2 separate regions of the Homo sapiens genome follow, and region 2 is linked to region 1. The links come from fine-mapping of genetic effects on gene expression. A gene starts in region 1. The other region holds a variant in brackets. All regions are shown on one strand. Distances are between the middles of the regions.

The links. PIP is the estimated chance that this variant, and not a neighbour inherited with it, causes the effect. A credible set is the group of variants that fine-mapping cannot tell apart.
Region 2: its variant is the best candidate, but not a certain one, in a credible set for the expression of DUOXA1 in unexposed skin (GTEx, PIP 0.55).

What each region holds. Positions count from the first base shown.
Region 1 is chr15:45,128,426-45,131,439 of GRCh38, reverse strand. DUOXA1 (dual oxidase maturation factor 1) reads left to right here and starts at 1,561. Exons shown (of 9, transcript NM_001276266.2): 1 at 1,561-1,588; 2 at 1,825-1,980; 3 at 2,306-2,422. DUOX1 (dual oxidase 1) reads right to left here and starts at 1,446. Exons shown (of 34, transcript NM_175940.3): 1 at 1,342-1,446.
Region 2 is chr15:45,176,201-45,178,700 of GRCh38, reverse strand. It overlaps SHF (Src homology 2 domain containing F), which reads left to right. Exons shown (of 7, transcript NM_001394037.1): 2 at 395-536. It overlaps LOC124903481 (a long non-coding RNA gene), which reads right to left and starts at 397. Exons shown (of 2, transcript XR_007064608.1): 1 at 1-397. The variant G/C (reference allele first, on the strand shown) is at 1,205.

The DNA.
Region 1 (3,014 bases):
TTCTAAGCATGGTTGCCAGAATCAAATGTGAGAAGGAGGTTTAATTCAAAGCAAGTGACAGGTGTTGGGCAAATGTGATATAGAGAGGGTAGGCGGGAGCTTGTCTCCTCTGGTTGGATCCAGAAGGGATGCACTACCAGGTGCTCATGTATTTAGTGCAAGCTTCCTGCTCTCTCTCTCTCCACCCAGAGTCAACAGGGAAACAGAGGCAGCAGAGGACTCAGGCTGGGACTCCTGAGTGCGAGTAAGGAGTACCTAAAGCCGGCGAAGACCTCCTGAAGGCAACCTGGAGATTGGGGTTAGGATAGAGGAAGAAAGGAGCTCAGGGAAAGCCTCATCCCCAGCCAAACATCAGGGTTCCTGGATGGGTTGTCTAGAGGAGAGAACCCAGGGAGTGACCTCATCCCTACTCCATCTCCTATTAAATGAAAAAACCTAGGCCCTGCCATAACTGGAAAGCTCAGTATCACCTGCTGCATTTCACAGAGTCTGTCCAGGTGCTGGCCTTTAATAGTGCATGAAGAGCTGGGCTCTGGATGGTTGAAGCTGTAAAGCTGGATATACGGAAGTAGCCACAGCGGTCCTTCCCTGATCCCAAGATGTCATTCCCCTCCCCCGCCACCACCATGTCTTCAGGATCCTGGGCCTCAACGCTAATGTACCACTCAGCCCCTAAGGGCATGAAATGGGCTTTCAGACCAGGCTGTGTGGGGATGACCTGAAGAGGAAGGTGGACATGCTTAATAACCACTCCTTGTGGGTGGGTTGCCCTTAATGATTTACACAACGATGGGGCAGTAACTTCTCAACAACCTTGACAGGAAGGTTGCCCAGGACAGGGCAGTGAAGCCCCAGGCAGAGCCAGCGGCAGAACCAGAGAGAGAACACAGGCCTGCCTGTTCTTGCCCCACATGGCTGCTTTTCCAGCCTGAAGCCCTAGAGTGGTGACCCTGGTGGCCCTGAGGTGGGAGGAAGATGGGTCAAGGCCATCTTGGTCCTAAGGGAGGGCTGAGGGGGAAAGCTTGGATCCTAAAGCCCAAAGCTCCCTCCCTGGTATGTTGTGCTGGTGCCAGGAGAAGAACCCGCAGGCCCAGGCAAACTAGGCCACCCAACATTCCCAGGTCCCAAAGAACCCAGTCTCTCAAAACCTTGATTGGGCAGAGGACAGGCCCTAACAGGACCGGTTTTAGCCTTAGGATAAGATCGGAGGCGCAGGGGGCTAGCATTCCCCTTTCTTCCATAACGTGGAGGAGCTGCGGCTCCCCCGCCACCCTGCCCTTGGAGCTCCCTCCCCCGGAGCGCCCAGGCCCGCGGGCCGGGAAAAGCCCTCCCAAATCTGACCTGCGGCCACGGCGTCACCAGAGCCCGGGACTGCAACTTGTCTCCGGCCTGGCTGCCAGCTGGGCCCGCGGAGCCCTCTCTCGTCCGGTGCCTCTGCAGCTCTGCGCCGGGACGGGCGGGGCTGGGGGTGAGGAGGGGAAGGCACGGCCCGGCTCGGCTCAGCCACGGGGCGGGGCGCAGTGGGGCGGGATGGAGTCTGGCGCCTGGGGAGGCGCGGAGGTGCTTCCAGCGGACGGCAGCGCGCGAGGTGAGACGGCGAGGGCTCCCGGGGCGCAGGTAGAGATGTTCCGTCGGTGCCGAAGGCCCGGCTAGTGCGGTTGTGTGGACGGCGAAAAAAGCAAGTCCGCCTTCACAAGTCCCATGGGGCTGGGGAGAGGGTGGGAGGCGGAGAGGGTATGGGGAGGGGAGACTCTCCTCAGATCCTCTCGACACCGTCGGGTCTGGGCTCCAAGTCCAAGGCCATCGATCACCTGCCACCCACAGACCAGGCCAGGCGTCAAAGCAAGTCACCCATCCGACCTAAACCCCTCTAAGACCCCGGAGTCACGTCTCCCTCCGGGGATCCTCGTGAGGTCTTGGGGGTCCCACCGCCCTGCGAGCCGCGCCCGCGCCCCGCCAGACCCGGAACTGCGTCGCTAGGTTTGCGCTGGAGCTGCTGGGATTGCTGGGCATGGGTGGGGGGGCGCAGAGGAGGAGGGGGGATTGGAGGGACCTCTGCGGAGCTGGCAGACCCCGGTACTACTGTCCTGGCGCACCCAGCCCTTCTCTGTACCAGGCCGGGAGAGGGAGGCGGCGCCGCAGAGCCTCGGGTGCAGTCTGAGAAGTTTGGGAGTGACTTGAAGAGTGACTGGAAGCACCCCAGACCCGGTTTGTCCGGTCACAGCCGGGTCCTTACGTGAGTTAGGAGAGGAGTGGGGGTCGGACGGGAGCCCCACTGAGAGTAAGGGCGCGCGTTTGTTCACAGAACGTCGGGACCTGGTTCCCTCTTTAATCACACCCCCGGGGGCGCTTCGTGTGAGGTTCCACGGGGGAAGGCGAGAGGCGCAGGCTGCCACACACGCACTGTTTGGAAGAGGGGAAGGTAGGGAATAGTGGTCCGGGTGTGGGTGGTGGGGGATGCGGCTGCTTAGATCTGTGCGGTCCAGGTGATTTTGGAGGGGGTCTTGAAGTGCTTGCTCCCGCCCTGGCACCTAGGGCTGCACTTCCTGCTTTCATCCAGACCAAGTTCGGATCAAGTGGGAGTTCTTCAAAGAGAGAGTTTGGTAAGAAACTGGGGAGGCAAGGAAAACCTCTTAAGGCCATAAATGCCACAAGGTTTATAGACATCGAATCGCCATCCCAGTTTAACTCGAGTCTGGATACTTTGGCTTGCATGATTCTGCACCCTTGAATTCCTTATCCACATCAGCCCTTACTGGGGAATCCTGCCTCCAATCCACTTTTCAGATCTTGTTCAATTTCTCCACTTAACTCCTATTTTTGTGCAACAACACACATATACATTCATACACAGATACACACGTACACACAGACCCCTTCCTTGAAGAGGAAAGTCTAGCACAGGAGTTCCTGACAGGGTCCCCTTAGCTAGCCACAGCTGTAAACGTTTAATGGGGTCTACCCCAATCAGAGAAAAAAGCATCACATTGCAGTAGCTGTGCATTACCAATCAG
Region 2 (2,500 bases), 48 kb before region 1:
TAGCTGGGCTTGGTGGTGCGTGCCTGTAGTCCCAGCTACTCGGGAGGCTGAGGCAGGAGAATGGTGTGAACCCGGTAGATGGAAGTTGCAGTGAGCCGAGATCACGCCACTGCACTCCAGCCTGGGTGACAGAGTGAGACTCTGTCTCAAAAAAAAAAAAAAAAAAGAAAGAAGGAAAGAGGTACCACTTGGTTGGCAGCCTAGTAGGGGAGCCCTGCAAAGGAAGAGCCAGAGCTTGTCCCCATCCAAGCTCAGAGCCTTCCTTTGAGTACCTGGGGGTCTGGGTCGAAGGCAGCCTACTTGGGACTCTTGCTCCCATGGACAGAGTACCTTGGGAGAAGCAGAGTTGCCTCTCTGCTCCCTGAAGCCCACTCTCTTCACTCTCCTCCCACAGCTAGCTATCCTAGAAGACTATGCGGACCCGTTTGATGTTCAGGAGACTGGCGAAGGCTCAGCAGGAGCTTCAGGAGCCCCAGAGAAGGTCCCTGAAAATGATGGCTACATGGAGCCCTATGAGGCTCAAAAGATGATGGCCGGTGAGTGACAGGGGCAGGGGAGGTGCTCCCTGAGGCCTGGGCTCTGCAGAACAGGCTTTGCGACTCACAAGTCTAAGGACTGATTCTTTGGTCCCTGGAAAATATGGAGAAAGTCTTTTCCAGGTCCTTAGGGAGGATGGTCATTGCCTTTCAGAGTCATTTTGGAGAAGCAGCTGTGACCTGTGAGACCTGAAGTGGTATAGGAGGCCACACAACTGAAGTTCAGATAGAAGTATTCAAGATAGGAAGGAAAAGAGTGGTGAGGGCTGGGAGGATCAGTGATCCCAAAAAGAGAACCACTAGCCTTGGGAGGGGGGATGAGTTTGAAATGAAACATCTTCATGGCAGTTGGAGAAAGATGACTAGAAATACAGTTACAGTGGGTGCCATGAGCCTGGGCAAGTAGTCCAAAGAGTGAGGCTAGAGAGAAAAGAGTAAGATCTGGTCTTGGGAACAGAGGCTGAGAGACAGTCCAGGGGAAAGAGATCAAATAGGGGAGATCAGAGAGGACAGGGTGGGTCTGTCCAAGCCACGGCCCTGAGGCAGGGTGAGAGGAAGTTTGTTCAGGAGCAAATGATGTTAGTGCTGGGTGTGCATGGGAACCTAGATGAGAGAGTCCGAGAGGGGCGGAGCAGTGCTTCATAGGCTGGAATGAGGTATCTGGACTT[G/C]CTTCAAAATGGGGAGTGGAGCCATGATGAATTCTTGAGCAAGAGAGGAACAGGATGAAAATGTCAGCTTTATTACTGATAAAGTTGATTAGAGAACATTACTTATGTTCACTGCAATGGGCTTATGTGTCATCACAATGGGCTTCTTAATACTTCACCACAGAATTAAACTTGCCCAATCAGGCTTGGGCAACTCAGTAGGCCTAGTGGGGGAACCCTGCAAAAGAAGAGCCAGAGCTTGTCCCCATCCAAGCTCAGAGCCTGCCCTTGGGTACCTGGGGCTCTGGGTCAAAGACAGCACAGGAGCAGGCCACTGACTGCATGAACCAGAATGTTCTTTCTCTTCAGGAAAAGAGAGTGTGCATTCACTGACCAATACAATAAACTGCTCTTCCTACTTGGGAGAGGTGGTAAGGGAGGCAGAGAGTGGTCAAGAATATCCCAGGACTATTATTCCATGGAGCTCTTGGAAACACAAGCCTGCAGAATGGAGGTTCACCCTAGCAGTAATCTATATACGGAAAGATGAGGGTGAAGGTCACTGGGTATTGGCAAAGAACAGATGGGATTTGAAGAATGAAGGAGGGCCAGGTCCAAGGAGAACAGTGTAGTAGACAGAAATGGAGAAAGTGAGAAGCTGACTACCCCATTTAGGTCAGAGGGTGTGGAACCCAGGAAGCCCCCATGAATGCCCTGAAATTATATGTGAAAATATGGGAGCACATTTTTTGGGGGAGTAGCTCCATAGCTTTTATCATATTTTCACTGGGGTCAGTGATCCCAATAAAAGAACTACTAGCTTTGGAGAAGGTGGTCAGTTTGAAACAATGGTATGTCAAAGCGAAAGGTCTTTATGGCAATGGACCCAAATGACTGGAAATACAGATGCAGCAAGTGCCATGAGGCTGGGCATACAGTTCAAGGAATTAGGATAGGGAAAAATGCATAAGACCTAGTCTTGGGAAAGAGAGGCCAAGAGAGGATCTAGGGAGAGGCCAAATGGGGGTGATCAGAAAGAAAGTCTTTGCCGGGTCCGTGGGGAGGATGGTCACTGCCTTTCCAATAGTCATTTTGGAGAAGCAGATGTGACTTGTGTGACCTGAAGTGGTACAGGAGGCCACACAACTGAAGGTCAGATATTAGCATTCGAGATAGTCAGGAAGGACAAAATAATGGTGAGGGCTGGGTCAGTGATCCCAAAAAGAGAACCAATTAGCTTTAGAGAAGGTGATGAGTTTGAAACCATGGAATGTCAAAGTGAAAGGTCTTTATGATGATGAACGTAACTTGTCGAAG